4 separate regions of the Homo sapiens genome follow, and regions 2, 3 and 4 are each linked to region 1. Evidence: fine-mapped expression QTL. A gene starts in region 1. Each other region holds a variant in brackets. All regions are shown on one strand. Distances are from middle to middle. Region 1 holds the start of PKIB (cAMP-dependent protein kinase inhibitor beta). Region 2 has its middle 68 kb from the start of SERINC1. Region 3 has its middle 8.8 kb from the start of HSF2. Region 4 overlaps PKIB (cAMP-dependent protein kinase inhibitor beta).

Region 1 (5,042 bases):
ATCCCTAAATCTACTAATAGAATATGCTTAATTATTATTTAAAATAATTATATGGAATCATGATTAACAATGCTTATCACAAGACATATAGTTCACAAGACGTATAGTTTATTTTTGATGTTGAGGAAAGAATAATTTTGTTTTTTCTAACTCAATTAAAATTTTGCATTGAAGAAATGGAAAACCACCGAATTTATTGTCCAGCCATTCAGAGCTGGCTAAGTCTCAACACTTAAAATACAATTTTCAAACTGCATGCTTTCTCATTTTCAATTGACATTAATGAAAATTTAGTCTTGATTAAGCCTGATTCATGCTCATTTAGCATTAAAAAACATTAGGCAAGAAATATCTCGTTTCTGAGAAATATTGCGACATTTTTTTCAAAAGTGTTTGCTGTACCTCAGCTCTAAATTTGAAGAGAAGCAATGGTTCCTCTCCCAAGCCTCTCTCTATATACATATAACATCATATATGATCCAGTAAGAAACATTTATTTTTCCAGAATTTTTTAAATTTTTATATATATAACTTCTACAAAAATTACTCTATAGTGTTCCTTAAAAGTTAGACACAAGTTTGTCATACAACCTACCAATTTCACTGTTAAGCATCTACCCAAGAGAAATGAAAACGGGTACTCACAAACACTTGAATGCAAATGTTCTCAGCAGCATGATTCATAATATTCCCATATTGGAAACAACCCAAATATCCATCCACTAGTAAATTGACAAAATGTGGTATATCCATACAATGGAAAACTATTCAGCAATAAGAAGAAATGAAATACTGATACATGCCACAACATAGCTGAACCCCAAAAACATTATGCTAAGTAAGAGAAGCCATAAGCAAAAGACCATATAGTATATCATTCCATTTATATAAAATGTTCAGAAAAGGCAAATCTATAGACTGAAAGTAGATTAATGGTTGCCTGGGAATGGGAGTGGGAACAAAGACATAATGGACATAAGGAATCTTACCAAGTGAGTAAACTGTTCTAAAACCAGATATGGTAATGGTTTTACAATTTTGGAATGTTCTAAAACCAGATATGGTAATGGTTTTACAACTTTTAGAAAATTAACAAATTTTCTAAAACTCACTGAAATATAATTTTTAAATATTATTCACCCTTAAAGGGTGAACTTTATAATATATAAATTATATCTCAATAAAGTTGTAAAAAAATGCTGTAATGCAAACTGCGTAAGAATTTAAATAATTGTAAGAACTGTGAGGAAAATTAAATTGATCTATCATTGATCTAAACAATATGTTTGCAATCGACTAAAAAGGAGGAAAAACTCTTTAACAAAAATGAAATTTGACACATTTTAAAATATTCTGCATAATGTGGTCCATTAGTCTTTGATATTTTATTGAAGAAAGTTGTGGTAAAGATAAGATTGAGAAGTCCATTACTAAAAACGTTTTCCAAAAGATTTCCTTTCCAAAGCTATACTTTCCTTCAAAATCGAATCTTTTGAACTTCCAAAACACCTTTTTAGCAAATGATCTCTTGAGATAGTGTCACTAGGGGGGCATTGACCAGCACCCGGCACACTAACAGGAAACAAGGTTTATAAACTGCTGATTTAACCAAACTTGATCCATAACCTACCCCATTTTCCGTGAGCATTATGGTCATCAGTTCTCATTTTAATAATCCAAATGCTGAGCTTTCTAAATATAAAATCCCAGGAGGATTTTTTTTGAATGTGTGGCAATGTCAGTAAGAAGGAAGGCATCTTGTGAAGAGATAAAGTGGACAGATGAATTTTGAAATCTATCTGTACACGAAGAGAAATGCAATACTCGCAATATTTCTAATTCAATACCTTTCAGTATGCAAACCACTGATAAAAGAGTTTTTTTAAAATTTTTTTTCTAGATGAACGTTTAAGTGGTCATTCGCCTCAAATCTCCACTTTCCAGTCCTGCACAGACTCCAGCTAATAACACTACCACCTGCAGGGTGTTTTGTTGTTTGTTTGTTGTTTGTTTTAGTGCTTCCCACATGCCTAGTTCACGCATGCACTTTTCTAAAGGACCCGAGTTCCGTTGGCTGCGTTCCCCGGGGAGCTCTACGAAGACCGGTCTGACCTGGCCCTCTCAGCTCCCTTGGAAGGGACCTGCTGCAAGGCAGGGTCATTTGGCTCCGAAATGCACCTTCAGGAATTTCCCCAAGGGGCTAGCATCAGCACCAACCGGAACACAGGCCCTCCGCTCCCTCAGCCCGCGACCACCTGGCACTCGTGTCCCTCCCTGCGGCCTGCCGGGGTCCTAGGAGCAGGGAAAATCCAATAGCTACGGGCGACCCTTGAGTTTACTCGGTCTACCCACCTCCATATTTTATCCAAAGAATGGACGGAGGCCAGTGAGGTGAGGTGACTTGGCTAAAGCCACACAGCCGGACGCTGGCCGAGCGGGTTAGTACTCGGGTCTCTGCTAACCCCGCGGCCGCTCGTGACTACCCGGGGCTTGGTAAGCACCGCCCAGGGGAAAGACTTGGCATTGCTGGCGCGAGAGCCGAAGGACTCAGCGACTTGTGACAGGAGGTCATCAATGGCCACCTGCAGGGCAGAGTGGGCAAAAGGCAGGTGACAGACCTCCCACGTCACGCCTGTTGGCGTGAGCGTCCTTTTCACTCTCTAAGTACCCTGACTTGTGAGTTAAACGATGGATCGGGTCGCCCAAGCGAAAGAGGCATCTGCTTCGAACTCCCCCCATATTTGTGCCAGCAGGGCAGAAAATAGGAAAGTTGCACTTACCACATCTTCCCTGGGTCAGTCTCCCCCGACTTCCCAAGTCCCACTCCTCCCTCCTCGCATAGGGACACCCACTCACGCGCCCGCTCCACCAGGTACGTACCAGCCGCGCGCAGCTGCCTGCCCTGCCGGTGCCCTGGCGCTCGCGCTCGCCCAGCGCTCTGCGGCCCGGAGCTGCGACTCGGGCTCTAGCTCGCTGCCGCCTCTACAGTCCACCGGGATGCGGCCGCGTCTGAGCTACTGGGCTGGGGCGCAGCCAGGCGGTGGCAGCTACTCGGGGGCGGAGGGAGCGGCCGCCGCGTCCCGCCCCCAGGCTACGAGCGCGGCTCCCCAGGCGGTGTCCCGCTCTCCGTGCAAACCGGGCCACCGCATCACTCCCCGGGGCACGTGCCACGGTAGCTTTTTTCTGCTGGCAGCCTGGGGCGAGCTCTTTTATCCTACTTGTGCGTTAACCACCAACTAATTATCGGTGATCGTCACACAACCCGCGTCCTCCCCGCCCGCCACTCCCAGTTCCCTTGGGCGATGATGAGGTTCTGCTAAGATTTCTGTGACGTGACTGCGGGAATTTCAATTCCCTTCCTGCTTTCCGACGTCGCATCGTGTTTTCTGTCCCTCCGGTTGTACGCGCCCTGAGCAGGGTTTGTGCTCCAGGTGTCATTAAGGTTGCCCTTTGATCTAATGTTGGCTGTTTGGAGAAGGTAGGAAGGTACACAGGCTTATCTACGCCCCGAATCTGGGTCTTCGAGTTTGTTAACAGATTATTTTAACAGATTAGGAAGCAATATGCAATGGAAACAACTTTTTGTGCAATAAAAGCAGAAAATAATGTATATCAAGTTTCACTTTCAGGTTCTCACTAAGAAAAATAAAGTCGTTACTACTAAGGTCTCACTGTGCTTTTTAAAAGCCATATTACATGGACGACGATACTGCTGATAAAATTAATTTATCTGCTTCCTGAGAAAGTGGTTTCTCACTGAAGTCTTAAAATCTCCTCTGGTCTCCTGAAACTCTTAATTAGTACTCAAAGTCTTCTCTTATCTCTAGTCTTTACTAATTTGCTCATTCATACTATGCTCTGACTTGCCACCCAAAGCCTATGACACCTGCCAATGACCACTTCCAAATTCCCTTTTTAGGCAAAAGCCTAAATATGGAAATACGAAAATATAATCAGACTAATATTTTATTCAGTGTGTGCTAATGGTAGTACAATCAAGTTCTTTAAATTATTCAATATTCATACCTCCACAATATAGTAATAATTTTCTCTATTTTCAGATAGTAAACTGAGGTTCAGCAAGGTTAGATACTTTGAACAAGGCTAAATAGCTGAGAAGATTCCAAATCAGTTTTGAACTTAGGTCTTTCTGCCTTCAGGATTGATTGACTTCCTTAAATTATACTCTGCTAATAAAGCTGTGATTTTTCTGAATTGTGATGTAGGCACATTTTGTTTTGTATTAGGTTAGTGCAAAAGTAATTGCAAAAAAGTACTGGCAAAAACTGCAGTAGCTTCTGCACCCGCCTAATAAAAATATAGTTACTTGTGTGGTTACACAAGCATTAATCAAAGAGACTGAGAGTTATTTATATCATTAGTGTAACTTTAAAACTTATTATCTGGCATACTGCTAAGGCCTGTTATTATTATATTATATAATAACATATATTTTTATTATCTAGGGCAAATTATTCTAAGGTTTATTTATTTTAGAGGTACTATGACAGAGAGTGATACTAAAATGTTTGAACTTATGAATTATGGTATCATGATTGGATTTTTATGATCCTGCAAGTGTATTTCCTATACTTGAAAATTTTGCTTTGTAAAATCTGTATTTTGGGATCAATGTGAGAAAACCACTAGACCTCACTGCTAAGCTTTTAACCTACATATGAAATCATCAGAACCACTGGAATGTATGGCCCATGAAGGCCATATCCTCAACACCTAGAATAGTACCTTCACAAAGTAGGTACTCTACAGGCCGTTTTGAAATGAATAAGTATTAACTTTGTTTCCACACTTAAGACCAAATAATGACTTATAAGAACACTATTTATAGAATGCTTTTGTCTATTTAGATTTAAGATTTTTGATGGCCTCTCATTTCTACTAGGAAAGTAAGGAGAAGATGCGGAAAGGTTTGCAGTAGCTGCTTTTGCAAATGTTAGACACGACCTGACCATAAGTGCAAGGAGGAGTTTTTGAGTCCAAGAATTGGTGGTAGCAGTAATTCCACACAATCATGTGAATTG
Region 2 (5,042 bases), 71 kb after region 1:
GGCAAACAGAGTCTGGAGTGGACCTCTAGCAAACTCCAACAGACCTGCAGCTGAGGGTCCTGTCTGTTAGAAGGAAAACTAACAAACAGAAAGGACATCCACACCAAAAACCCTTCTGTGTGTCACCATCATCAAAGACCAAAAGTAGATAAAACCACAAAGATGGGGAAAAAACAGAGCAGAAAAACTGGAAACTCTAAAAAGCAGAGTGCCTCTCCTCCTCCAAAGGAACGCAGCTCCTCACCAGCAACAGAACAAAGCTGGACAGACAATGACTTTGACGAGTTGAGAGAAGAAGGCTTCAGACAATCAAACTACTCTGAGCTACAGGAGGAAATTCAAACCAATGGCAAAGAAGTTAAAAACTTTGAAAAAAAATTAGACAAATGGATAACTAGAATAACCAACGCAGAGAAGTCCTTAAAGGAGCTGATGGAGCTGAAAGCCAAGGCTCGAGAATTAAGTGAAGAATGCAGAAGCCTCAGGAGCCGATGCGATCAACTGGAAGAAAGGGTCTCAGTGATAGAAGACGAAATGAATGAAATGAAGCAAGAAGGGAAGTTTAGAGAAAAAAGAATAAAAAGAAACGAACAAAGCCTCCGAGAAATATGGGACTATGTGAAAAGACCAAATCTACGTCTGATTGGTGTACCTGAAAATGACGGGGAGAATGGAACCAAGTTGGAAAACACTCTGCAGGATATTATCCAGGAGAACGTCCCCAATCTAGCAAGGCAGGCCAACATTCAGATTCAGGAAATACAGAGAACGCCACAAAGATACTCCTCGAGAAGAGCAACTCCAAGACACATAATTGTCAGATTCACCAAAGTTGAAATGAAGGAAAAAATGTTAAGGGCAGCCAGAGAGAAAGGTCAGGTTACCCACAAAGGGAAGCCCATCAGATTAACAGCGGATCTCTCGGCAGAAACTCTACAAGACAGAAGAGAGTGGGGGCCAATATTCAACATTCTTAAAGAACAGAATTTTCAACCCAGAATTTCATATCCAGCCAAACTAAGCTTCATAAGTGAAGGAGAAATAAAATACTTTACAGACAAGCAAATGCTGAGAGATTTTGTCACCACCAGGCCTGCCCTAAAAGAGCTCCTGAAGGAAGCACTAAACATGGAAAGGAACAACCGGTACCACCCACTGCAAAAACATGCCAAAATGTAAAGACCATCAAAGCTAGGAAGAAACTGCATCAACTAATGAGCAAAATAACCAGCTAACATCATAATGACAGGACCAAATTCACAAATAACAGTATTAACTTTAAATGTAAATGGGCTAAATGCTCCAATTAAAAGACACAGACTGGCAAATTGGATAAAGAGTCAAGACCCATCAGTGTGCTGTATTCAGGAAACCCATCTCACGTGCAGAGACACACATAGGCTCAAAATAAAAGGATGGAGGAAGATCTACCAAGCAAATGGAAAACAAAAAAAAGGCAGGGGTTGCAATCCTAGTCTCTGATAAAACAGACTTTAAACCAACAAAGATCAAAAGAGACAAAGAAGGCCATTACATAATGGTAAAGGGATCAATTCAACAAGAAGAGCTAACTATCCTAAATATATATGCACCCAATACAGGAGCACCCAGATTCATAAAGCAAGTCCTGAGTGACCTACAAAGAGACTTAGACTCCCACACAATAATAATGGGAGACTTTAACATCCCACTGTCAACATTAGATAGATCAGTGAGACAAAAGTAAACAAGGACTACCCAGGAATTGAACTCAGCTCTGCACCAAGCAGACCTAATTGACATCTACAGAGCTCTCCACCCCAAATCAACAGAATATACATTTTTTTCAGCACCACACCACACCTATTCCAAAATTGACCACATAGTTGGAAGTAAAGCACTCCTCAGCAAATGTAAAAGAACAGAAATTATAACAAACTGTCTCTCAGACCACAGTGCAATCAAACTAGAACTCAGGACTAAGAAACTCACTCAAAACCACTCAACTACATGGAAACTGAACAACCTGCTCCTGTATGACTACTGGGTACCTAATGAAATGAAGGCAGAAATAAAGATGTTCTTTGAAACCAACGAGAACAAAGACACAACATACCAGAATCTCTGGGACACATTCAAAGCAGTGTGTAGAGGGAAATTTATAGCACTAAATGCCCACAAGAGAAAGCAGAAAAGATCCAGAATTGACACCCTAACATCACAATTAAAAGAACTAGAAAAGCAAGAGCAAACACATTCAAAAGCTAGCAGAAGGCAAGAAATAAGTAAAATCAGAGCAGAACTGAAGGAAATAGAGACACAAAAAACCCTTCAAAAAATTAATGAATCCTGGAACTGGTTTTTTGAAAAGATCAACAAAATCAATAGATCGCTAGCAAGACTAATAAAGAATAAAAGAGAGAAGAATCAAATAGACGCAATAAAAAATGATAAAGGGGATATCACCACCGATCCCATAGAAATACAAACTACCATCAGAGAATACTACAACACCTCTACCCAAATAAACTAGAAAATCTAGAAGAAATGGATAAATTCCTTAACACATACACCCTCCCAAGACTAAACCAGGAAGAAGTTGAATCTCTGAATAGACCAATAACAGGATCTGAAATTGTGGCAATAATCAATAGCTTACGAACCAAAAAAA[G/AG]TCCAGGACCAGATGGATTCACAGCCGAATTCTACCAGAGGTACAAGGAGGAGCTGGTACCATTCCTTCTGAAACTATTCCAATCAATAGAAAAAGAGGGAATCCTCCCTAACTCATTTTATGAGGCCAGCATCATCCTCATACCAAAGCCTGGCAGAGACACAGCCAAAAAAGAGAATTTTAGACCAATATCCTTGATGAACATTGATGCAACAATCTCAATAAAATACTGGCAAACCGAATTCAGCAGCACATCAAAAAGCTTATCCACCATGATCAAGTAGGCTTCATCCCTGGGATGCAAGGCTGGTTCCACATATGCAAATCAATAAACATAATCCAGCATATAAACAGAACCAAAGACAAAAACCACATGATTATCTCAATAGATGCAGAAAAGGCCTTTGACAAAATGCAACAATGCTTCATGCTAAAAACTATCAATAAATTAGGTATTGATGGGACGTATCTCAAAATAATAAGAGCTATCTATGACAAACCCACAGCCAATATCATACTGAATGGGCAAAAACTGGAAGCATTCCCTTTGAAAACTGGCACAAGACAGGGATGCCCTCTCTCACCCCTCCTATTCAACATAGTGTTGGAAGTTCTGGCCAGGGCAATTAGGCAGGAGAAGGAAATAAAGGGTATTCAGTTAGGAAAATAGGAAGTCAAATTGTACCTGTTTGCAGATGAATTGATTGTATATCTAGAAAACCCCATTGTCTCAGCCCAAAATCTCCTTAAGCTGATAAGCAACTTCAGCAAAGTCTCAGGATACAAAATCAATGTACAAAAATCAGAAGCATTCTTATACACCAATAACAGACAAACAGAGAGCCAAATCACGAGTGAACTCCCATTCACAATTGCTTCAAAGAGAATAAAATACCTAGGAATCCAACTTACAAGGGATGTGAAGGACCTCTTCAAGGAGAACTACAAACCACACTGCTCAATGAAATAAAAGAGGATACAAACAAATGGAAGAAGATTCCATGCTCATGGGTAGGAAGAATCAATATTGTGAAAATGGCCATATTGCCCAAGGTAATTTATAGATTCAATGCCATCCCCATCAAGCTACCAATGACTTTCTTCACAGAATTGGAAAAAACTACTTTAAAGTTCATATGGAACCAAAAAAGAGCCTGCATTGCCAAGTCAATCCTAAGCCAAAAGAACAAAGCCGGAGGCATCATGCTACCTGACTTCAAACTATACTACAAGGCTACAGTAACCAAAACAGCATGGTACTGGTACCAAAACAGAGATATAGATCAATGGAACAGAACAGAGCCCTCAGAAATAATGCCACGTATCTACAACCATCTGATCTTTGACAAACCTGACAAAAACAAGAAATGGGGAAAGGATTCCCTATTTAATAAATGGTGCTGGGAAAATTGGCTAGCCATATGTAGAAAGCTGAAACTGGATCCCTTCCTTACACCTTATACAAAAATTAATTCAAGATGGATTATAGACTTACATGTTAGATCTAAAATCATAAAAACCCTAGAAGAAAACCTAGGCAATACCATTCAGGACATAGGCATGGGCAAGGACTTCATGTCTAAAACACCAAAAGCAATGGCAACAAAAGCCAAAATTGACAAATGGGATCTAATTAAACTAAAGACCTTCTGCACAGCAAAAGAAACTACCATCAGAGTGAACAGGTAACCTACAGAATGGAAGAAAATTTTCACAACCTACTCATCTGACAAAGGGCTAATATCCAGAATCTACAATGAACTCAAACAAATTTACAAGAAAAAAACAAACAACCCCATCAAAAAGTGGGCAAAGGATATGAACAGACACTTCTCAAAAGAAGATATTTATGCAGCCAAAAAACACATGAAAAAATGCTCATCATCACTGGCCATCAGAGAAATGCAAATCAAAACCATAATGAGATACCATCTCACACCAGTTAGAATGGCGATCATTAAAAAGTCAGGAAACAACAGGTGCTGGAGAGGATGTGGAGAAATAGGAACACTTTTACACTGTTGGTGGGACTGAAAACTAGTTCAACCATTGTGGAAGTCAGTGTGGCGATTCCTCAGGGATCTAGAACTAGAAATACCCTTTGACCCAGCCATCCCCTTACGGGTATATACCCAAAGGATTATAAATCATGCTGCTATAAAGACACATGCACACGTATGTTTATTGTGGCACTATTCACAATAGCAAAGACTTGGAACCAACCCTAATGTCCAACAACGATAGACTGGATGAAGAAAATGTGGCACATATACCATGGAATACTATGCAGCCATAAAAAATGATGAGTTCATGTCCTTTGTAGGGACATGGATGAAACTGGAAACCACCATTCTCAGCAAACTATCACAAGGACAAAAAACCAAAATGTTCT
Region 3 (5,042 bases), 220 kb after region 1:
CAAGACCGTCCTGGCTAACACGGTGAAACCTTATCTCTACTAAAAATACAAAAAATTAGCCAGGCGTGTGGGACACGCCTGTGCTCTCAGCTACTCCGGAGGCTGAGGCAGGAGAATTGCTTGAACCCAGGAGGCGGAGTTTGCAGTGAGCTGAGACTGCGCCACTGCACTCCAGCCTGGATGACAAAGCAAGACTCTGACTCAAAAAAAAAAAAAAATTTGCTACTTAATGGCAGAACTCTTGATTTATAAAGCCCTTATATATGGTAATTGTTATATTTGCTATAATTTACTTTAAAATACTACAATTTAAAGAGGAGTATATAGTGTGGTAGTTAATTGTAATCTGCACCCTAGGGGCAGTCAAGTTAACAGTTGAAAAACCCGAATTAGGAAGGCATTCTCCAGGGGTGGTTAGTTAGCATATGAAAGACTAATCTAATGCTTTTCCTATGAAGATTTAATCTTAATGTTTATTTTTTTAATTAATACCAAAGTTTTGTTAACTAGGGCAATGGATGTGGAAATGATTTCTTTCTTGGTAAAATTAATGAAGTTCAGGATATGTGTATTGACTAAAAATAGTGTATTGTCTTTCCCCATTTTTGACTAACCTGAGAATGGTGTTATCTTGAACTGGTAGCCTATTCTCTAGGTGCCCTAACCTTAGGATCCTCATAGACCCAGTGTTCAGGGGATTTAGGTGGCCTGAAGCAAGAGTAAAAATAGAGGCTTACATGCCATATTTCAGAAGTTTTAAAGATTGCAAATCAAGCTAACAAACTTAAATAAAATATGTTCTAGTCTCCTAGCTTGAAAAATATATCTTCATAATAATAAAATTAAAAGATATGTGTCAAATCATAGTTTTCAGCTGGGCATGGTGGTGCATGCCTGTAGTTCCAGCTACCCAGGAGGCTAAGGCAGGATTGCTTGAGCCCAGGAGTTTAAGGCTGCAATGAGCTGTGATTGCGCCAGTGCACTGCAGGCTGGGTAACAGAGTGAGACCCTGTCTCAAAAAACAAAAAAACAAACAAACAAACAATGTATGTATAGTTTTCATAAGACACTAGGTTGGCAAAATATTTTTAAATTAACTTTGATCCACGAAGATCAAATGTAATTATTGTTTGGTGTTCTGTTGATGGAGGAATGATGTTTTTGATGATTAATAAAATAGAGATATATAATTTGTAGATCATTGTATATTTATTCCATAAAATTATTTTTTCTTGCCTATATTTCAGTTAGATTGTCACCATCAAGGTTGTCACATAACCTATGTTCTATTGGATCAAAGTATTTGAAATGTAGTTGTATTCAAAGTACAACTGTATTTAACAACCAAATCTGAATATATTTTATAAAATGTATTTCAAATACATGTTAAAAATAGGAAAATTAAAGTTTTTGTACATTTTGTTTTAAAATATTTAGAAATATCATAAAATTAAAAATTAAATTATAATTAATAAATTTCTAATTTAAAAACAAAATCATTCATATAAATTTGACATTTTAAGCTTAATATTTTGAAACTATAATCAGATTGTATTAAACATTTCAAAAAAATAAACTATTCTCACTCAGAAGCAGCTGGCATGGGCATAAAGTAGTACAACCTGCAAACCTTGTGTCTCAAGGGCGTAGGAGAAGAATTTTCCTGGAGCTCTTAGTTGCTGGAATAATGTTTAGAGTTACACTATGCCAACACGGAGTGCTGGATTCCAAATGATAGAAGTGACCGTTTGTTCCTTAATAAATTAATTTTTTGGTATGTGTTATGATATTCAGGGCTCTTTAAGGTGCTGGGCTCCAAAAAGAGATTCCTCTCCTAGATTATAAAGGCAATACTGCTACTTAGAGTAGATTTTTGTCACCTGACTTTCTTGAAAGTTAGCTGAATCCCACTGTTAGAATACTGCAACATATTCTATGCAACATACTTCATCAGGTTTATATAGCAGGGTGAATAACTTTTTGTGCCTTCTTGCTAATACATCTTTGTATGTGTGGCAGAATTTCTGCTTTTTTCATGACGATTATTTTAATATTTTTAAAATATAAACTTCTTTCTGGTGGTAAGGTTTTGGTCAACTCAACTTCACCTAGCTCTAACTCTTTGAAGCTACCAAAACAGTCATTGTGGATAATCAAATTGGCTTAGATTAGTTCTCAGAAGTGTAAATCTGGCAAA[A/G]TTTTCTAAACTGATGCAACAAAATAGATCCCTACATTGAACTATGAGTTCAGTTAGCTGGGAAGCTGATTTTCAGTGCTGGGGGTCATAGATTTTATTGCATATGACTTTGTAGGCATTAGTGGCTAAAGATATATTTCAAGACGTACTAAAAAGCACTACGGCCAATAAAGGCCTCCGAGTATCACTCTGTAGAGAACTCCCATTGCCTCCAATGTAGGGATTATATCATTTATTTTCTTGATTTATTTGAACGACCTACTATTCCCTCTAGTTTGCATTCATACAGGGTAACTCATTTGACAACCTGGTGTCATCCTTCCAAATTTTCTCTATTTACAGTAGGTTATATATGTATTTATATGTATAAAGAGAGTTTATTGGCATTATTTTTATATAAAACATTTTCCCAATTTTTAAAATTTACTTTTAATTGCAGTAAAATATACACAATTTAAAATTTACCATCTTAACAATTTTTAAGTGTACAGTTTAATAGCGTTAAGTACATTCACTTTCTTGTGCAATCAATCTCTAGAATGCCTTTCATCTTGCAAATCTGAAACTCCATACCCATTAAATAACATTTATGCTTTTCCTCCTTCCCTCAGCCCCTGGCAACCACCATTTTACTTTCTGTGGTTATAAATTTAACTACTCTATTACCTCATATATTTGGGATCATACAGTCTTTGTCTTTTTGTAACTGGTTTATTTCACTTAGCATGTCTTCAAGGTTCATCCATATTGTAAACATGTGTCATAATTTTCTGTCTTTTTAAAAGCTAAATAATATTCGTTTGTATGCATACACCACATTTTTTTTATTCGTTCATCAATGGACACAAGTTATTTCTACCTTTTGACTATTGTGAATAATGCTGCTATGAACATTGGTGTATATAAACAATTTTATGCATTTTGCTTTTCTCAGTTGATAACGCATGGTAGAAACTCTTTCATGTCAATTGGCATAGCTATAATTTATTCCTTTTAAAGATTCCATGATATTCTGTGGCTTGTATGCAGCACAATAGATTCAGCCATTCTGCTACTGATGGGCATCTGCTTTGTTTCAAGGTTTTTATTTTTTTTCCACTCTGAGATGCTGCAAAAATATTCCTTAAAGATAAATTATTAAGCATTGGTGCTTTTATTTCTGTGTAGTAGTAAATTCAGATTTTCATGTATAATTTGCATGGTAAATCTATACTTTAGATTACTGTACCAGGATATAAAAAGAGCATGCTGCTGTTTAAAAAGCCCCACGTTTGAGCTAACAGAATGCTATTGTATACGTATCCAACACTATGACGCTCCTAGCAACAAGAAATGTCAACATCATGCTTCTATGGCAATAGCAAATGTTTAAGCAAGACAGAGAATAATCTAATATTTAGTGCTCAGGGGTGATTTCACCTTTGGATAGAAATAAAAGGAGATACCTTTATTCTTTGTTATTTTCATAACACAATGCAAAGCCAGGAAACTATACACTTTATTACATGTGATTTTTGGGGGCACTGGTGGCTGAAGATATATTCTGTATTGCTTTTGGACCAATTTAGGTCTGGTTTATTTTCCACTGAATTAATTCATAATTATCTGTAACTATCTCTTCTAGTCCTAGCCAGCTGTGAAAAATGAAGATAGTAAACAAAATGAGCTAGTGTTCTGGTGTTTAGAGATATTTATTGAAATTGAGACCCAGAGAGGTTCGATTACATTCTAATAGGTTCACGATCAGCATGTTTTATATATATATGTGTGTGTGTGTGTTTGTGTGTGTGTGTGTGTGTGCATGTGTTTTGATTCAGACTTTTCCACTTTGAAGCCTATGCCTTTCTATCACTTTATGATTTGCCGTATGATGACCCTAGAAGAATCCAAACCAAATCTGGTATCCCAAGTCTCTTGTATCTGATGTTCCCAGAGTGAGTGCTTGACATCCCCTGTTCAAAGTGGCAGGCTTCCAATTTGACTCTCTTTAGCCTATAACTAGGCTGCACTCCAATTCCCATATGAGAGGCAGAGCCCTGCCGCCCATACCCACCTACTTGGCTGGGCTGCTCCCTTAGCCCTTACTCAGGATCTTCCACAGGCTGGCTAAGACCTATAGTCACCAGTTAACAAGACTCTATTCTAATAAGAATTAGAATGTGTAATAAAGTTCTGCTTTTTTATGGTAACTATTTTAATGTTTTTAAGATATAAAAATCTGCAATAAACAAACAAATGAACATAATTGAACAAAAACATGTTTTGGTTCTCCTGCTTTGGTGCTTAGTGAGGTCATTGTGTGCTTTGATCCTGAGTCTTGTTTCCATCAGATAAATCATTTGGGTCTTTATACTATGTGTTATGGGCTGACTTGTGTCCCCTCAAGCTTTATTTGTTGAAATTTGAATCCCCCAGTACCTCAGAATGTGACTGTTTTTTGAGATAGGGCCTTTATGGATATAATTGATATAAAATGAGTCCATGCAGGTAGGCCTGATCTAGTATTACTGGTGTCCTTATAAGAAGGGGAGATTCAAATGCAGACAATACACAGACCTACAGACTGAGGGGTAATTATGTGAGAACACAGGGAAAAGGAATCCATCGGCAAGCCAAGAAGAAAGGTCTTAGAAGAAACTAGATCTGCCAACACTTTGATCTTGGACTTCTAGCCTCCAGAACAGTGAGAAAATAATTTTCCATTGTTTTAGCAACTGAGACTGCTAATGTACTCTCTATAGGAGGACTTTCAACTATACCAAAACCTTGTGACAACCAAAAAGTCCAACTACTCTGGATATTAAACAACTTTGATAAAAACATTTTACTAACCTTGCTGATTTAT
Region 4 (5,042 bases), 89 kb before region 1:
TGTTCATACTATTCCTGGTTACAACCCTCACATGCTCCTGCATGCCCTGCAATGTTCTTCTCCTTTGGTGGTATGTATGACCAGTAAACTGCTGTGGATCTCATCTGTCCAGTGTTGGGTGTTGGTTGTCTAGGCATCTCTGAATCTCCAGGGCAGGAATCTTTCGTTCACCAATGGGGTGAATAGAAAGCAATAAAATCCACTGGTGTTATGAACCATATGACATGCCCAACCATTTCAGAAGACACCTAGTCAGTTAAAATTAACTGTTCCTTGGTTATTTGGTTCTGAGTTATTTGGCAAGGGTACCTGAGACAGAACTGCTAACTGCTGATGGGCTTGAGCTATGGCCTATGTGGCACTGTTATGCCATCTCTTTTAACTCTGCAATGCTCTTGTCCCCAAGAAGAAAATGGTTGTTAACTATACCCTGGTGTGACATGCTGTCAGGTTCAGCCTGTGTTTGGCAGGTGATCTCTGAAGCTTCAGCCTGTAAATGCAATGAGAAAACAGTGCCTTAACCAGTCAGTACTTCATTCCTGCTTACCAGAGCTCAGGCTAGAGCTCTCTGATCACCATGTCTAGCCTGGTGACTGTCACTGGCTGCTTGGAGCAGCAATACAGACATTGCTTGTAATGGTACACCTATGGAACAGGCGCAGAGGCAGCCCTGTGTGAGGTTTGTGGGAAGGAAAGTGGCCACACCATGGAGAACCAAGCATGGTATCCTGGTTGCCATTGTTGTTCATGCAAAGGTAGTGACCTTTCTGGTCTCCTCTGCTGCTGCTTCCTGAGCTGCTATTGCTTGCACTCTCATGACTCCGAAGGGCATCGAGGTGCAGATCCATGGTGGCCTGTGGCACAGGTGCTAATGAAAAAAGAAAAGGGTGGGGAGAGGAAGGAGCATTTGGTACTCAAATGATTTGCCAATGCAAAACCCATAGCCAGTATGCCTGGGCTCAGCACTGCTGCCTACTAGCACACCAAATGGCCAATCTTGCAATCATGGGCTTGCTGGCCCTATCCAAGCCATAGACTAATGACTTTACTGGATATGGACCTCAACTCTAGAGAGATGGACTCGCACTTCCTAGAGGAAGAGGCAGCCACTTCTGAGAAAGGCCACTAAGCTCCCTAATGTTTTCCCATAAGTACCCAGAAAGTTTGCACCACAGGTGATTTTACAGAAAGCTCCAATTTCACCTAGCTAAAAACTCAAAATATTCTCAGGGAATTTGTGCAGAGAAAGAAACAAACAAAGAGGGAAAAAGTCCACACGACAGAAACGGTAGGGCAGTGGCAGCAGGAGATAATTTTGGTCTATTGAGTCTGGGTTATAAACCTAGCTTTCTTTCCCTGTACCACTCTGCTTACTATGTCTCTGTTGCAATAAAGATCCTAATCCTTGAGGTTATAGAGAAATACCTATGTTACCTTTGTGGCACTGTGGTACCCCATGGCACCATTAATTCAAACTCAACTTAAGCCCAGGGTCTTTAAACCATATAAAGCAACCATTGCTGTGGGGGAAACCCCTAACCCTGATGATACTAATTTGAAGCTCTCTGAGAGAAAAGACTTATAAGTATCATCAGGGTAAAGAGGATCCCACACCACCACCCCACCACCACCAAATATGTCCAGTGACCACCACTAAAAAAAAAAAAAAAAAAAAAAAGAAAGAAAAGAAATTTTAAAAAGCAAAGAAAAAAATATCCTGGATACGGGGAGGAACCAACAACAACAACAACAACAACAACAGAACCCTAAAACAAAGATCTACAATTTGACCCAATTGGAAATTCAAAATATATTAAAGGCATTTATATAGCCAAGATAAAGGGGCACTGATTGGCTTTTGTGCCTCTACAGTATAGGTTCTTAATTAACTTTAATACCTGCTGAAATGCACCAATTGGCAAACCTTCA[T/C]GGTTTTAACTGGCATTAGGGCTCAGATTACAGTTATGACTAGGATCTTCCTAAATTTAAACATGGTATCCCCCATAACATTAGGGGAGTTCTGGCATATAAAATAGAGGACAAAGAGATATGCCTCTTCTTAACCATCATAATTACTGTCTTGCCTAAATTTCTCATCATGGTCATAGCAATCATTGCCCTAAAATATCCCATAATGGACATGGACGCTCTGACCCAATGAAAAATAAATGGAAATTAGATTAAATCTTGACACTTATAAATTGGCTTGACAGGATGGAAACTCCCGACTCTTCTGCCTCCACCCCAAATTAAAATAATTATTAACATGGCTCAAAGTAATTTAAAACAGGGCTTTTGAGGATTAAAATTTGTTACATGACAGCTATAGAGTGCAGGGGTTATTATCCCCACTGCTTCTCCATTTAACAACCCAATCTGGCCTGTTTGGCCTGTCCTTAAACCTGGAACAAATAAATGGTGCAGCACAGTAGACTGCTGCAACCTTAATGCCATGGTCCCATACAGTTCAGGTCCCTATTTCCAACAAACTGAGTATTGAAACTTCTGACTCCATCCAATCAGCAACTGATAAATATTTTGCTACTATGAATTAGGCTAATATGATCCATTTGGTGCCAATGTCAGCAGTTTAGCAGTCACAGTTTGCTTTTACCTCCCATGAGACACAATATATATATATATATTTTAGTTCACAAATGCAATTCTTTTTTTTTTATTATTATACTTTAAGTTTTAGGGTACATGTGCACATTGTGCAGGTTAGTTACATATGTATACATGTGCCATGCTGGTGCGCTGCTACATAATATATTTTTACCAGGCTACTCAAGGGCTACCTCAGCAGCCTTGCTACTGCACACAGTCTTTGCAGGCAGGATCTTAATGACATCCACCTTTCTCCAGGAGCACAGGTATATTACATTGATGACATCCTTCTCCAGGAAGATTTGTTTGACGTATTCATTAAGAATATACAAATACAAAGGAACTCACACAAAAAGGGTGGATATTTCACACATAGTACAAAGTCCTGTGACTTCTGTTAAATTCCTGAAAGTTATTTGGTAAAGCAAAAGCTGCTCCATCCCTGATACTGTCAAAAAACAGGTATTAACCCTCTCAGTACCTACAAGGTTAATACAAGTCCAACATCTTTTAGTCTTTTTTGGGTTCTGGAGACAACATATTCTTTTGCAAATTTTCTTTAATTTCACTAGTGCTGTTACTTACAGATTGCCCATCTTAAAGGGGAACCTCCTCAACAAAAGGCTGTAGAAGCTGTCCAAAATGAAATCAACAGGCACTCCAGTTAGTGCCCTCAGAGGCTTCAGCGACCTCATCTCATGCCTCCTGGAGTCTCTAGGCCACCTGTGATGGTCATAAGTTGCTCATGGGCTTCTGATGCAAGAAACTGCCTTTCCTGGCCTTGTACTATACACCATTACAGTGGCAATTACTGGCCACACACTGGGCTTTTCTGGAAATAGAGGGTCTCACAGACTTTGAGCCTGTGACCCTCTGTACCCAGCTACTGCAATGCCTGGTAATGCATTGGAGCAGCACCCCCATGAATCTGGCCTAGCTATGAGACCTCTTTGCGACAGGATGGAGTCAAGCTTGGCCCTTCTGGCATATTCTATCTGTAGAAGGTGGTGGCCTCCTCTACCATCAGTCCTTTGCCAAAACCATGGTGCTAGGGGAAGTCATCCCTTTCCTAGAGTCCTTGGCTACCTGGAGAGCCCCCTGGGATCAACTGAATGAATGGCAATAGAAGGCCATACATTTTACCAATGATGTTGCCACAATTATACATGATAGAGCTCAGTAGAGAGTTGTTGCTCTTAATTCCTTAACCAAGATGTCCCTGATAAAGAATAGAACCCAAGGGTCAGCACAATTGGCACACTCTAGACATTTATCTTGGCAATGGATGCCCTGGCCATTTCACCTCATATGTATATTTTTACAACTCTTAGACCATTGCCTAAGGGTCTCACTTTAAAGAACTCTGTGAATCTCTTGTTTCACAGGTACCCAAATATAAATATATAAACCAAATCAACAGGTTTCTCTACATATCCTAAGGCCACAATACAAGGCCTCAACAGGATATTCCTTATCTCATTTGCAGTTTTAGACACTAGATTGTTACCAAGGCACTCATTTTATGTCTCAGAATACACAATGGAATCTTGAAGAAAGCTTTCCATTGAAATGCAGCCTTCCCATAGGCCTCAGGTAGTTAGCCCCAGGCAGCTACTTTAATTGATAAGCCTAATGGGTTTTCAAAGAACTATTTAAGTCACAATGAGACAAATGTCCCTCTACCCCCTTGATGTCACCACTGCCACAAGCATTGGTTAGTCTCAATTCACACCCCCTGGGAGCATCCACTCTCTACATCAATGTCACACAGGTCTCTCAATTGCTTTTACTGGTTATATATGGAGACATGCCCGAAGTTCATGTTTTTGGCAACCACCTCAAAATGTGGCCCTCTCTGCTTGGTCAGGTGCCTACTTTGCTTCCTAGGAAGGCACATCTCCTAATCCCTAAAAGTCTCAGTTATCATCAAGATTTAAACTGATGTCAAAGCATCAAGTGATCAATTGTAGCATAAAGCCAAAAATTTAGGCTTGATATCTGATAAAACAGGTCTCTAATGGCCTAACTACAAGTTCTCCTCCCATAGATCAGGTATCCTAGACAGACCACCATCCTTATGAAGGGGACCAGGCACAGTTTCTATTTATCCTTGAGTAGCAGGTTTTGTTCTCTGTTTGCCTGCCAAATCAAACAAGTGAATCACATCATTCCACAAGAACTGGGAGCACCCTACCCTCTTAATTCTCCAAAGGCTACCTCCTACAGACCTGGTTGTTCACTCTGCTCTTGAGTGCAACTCCTGTGTGGCCCTGCAAGGTGTGCCATGTCCTCCTCCCCCAGGCCATCAGTAGACATGACTAATAACTTGCTGTTGGTCTCATCTCTTCAGGGTCAGGTGGTGTTTAGCTCTCCCTCACCCACAGGGTAAATAGGAGGTGACTAAGACACCCTACCACTAATAGCATGTTCCTTTC

The links. PIP is the estimated chance that this variant, and not a neighbour inherited with it, causes the effect. A credible set is the group of variants that fine-mapping cannot tell apart.
Region 2: its variant is the best candidate, but not a certain one, in a credible set for the expression of PKIB in monocytes after LPS (Quach 2016, PIP 0.50).
Region 3: its variant is the best candidate, but not a certain one, in a credible set for the expression of PKIB in nucleus accumbens (GTEx, PIP 0.56).
Region 4: its variant is the best candidate, but not a certain one, in a credible set for the expression of PKIB in whole blood (INTERVAL, PIP 0.90).

The regions. Positions count from the first base shown.
Region 1 is chr6:122,608,374-122,613,415 of GRCh38, reverse strand. It overlaps PKIB (cAMP-dependent protein kinase inhibitor beta), which reads right to left and starts at 3,011. Exons shown (of 5, transcript NM_181795.3): 1 at 2,881-3,011. RefSeq lists an enhancer at 1,719-2,364 and a silencer at 2,981-3,160.
Region 2 is chr6:122,537,424-122,542,465 of GRCh38, reverse strand. It overlaps a transcript of PKIB not described here. Among named protein-coding and RNA genes, the nearest start is that of SERINC1, 68 kb to the right of the region's middle. The variant G/AG (reference allele first, on the strand shown) is at 2,651.
Region 3 is chr6:122,388,359-122,393,400 of GRCh38, reverse strand. No RefSeq gene overlaps it. Among named protein-coding and RNA genes, the nearest start is that of HSF2, 8.8 kb to the left of the region's middle. RefSeq lists an enhancer at 1-168. The variant A/G (reference allele first, on the strand shown) is at 2,198.
Region 4 is chr6:122,696,888-122,701,929 of GRCh38, reverse strand. The region is part of intron 3 of PKIB (cAMP-dependent protein kinase inhibitor beta); the gene reads right to left. Among named protein-coding and RNA genes, the nearest start is that of FABP7, 80 kb to the left of the region's middle. RefSeq lists an enhancer at 4,804-5,042. The variant T/C (reference allele first, on the strand shown) is at 1,930.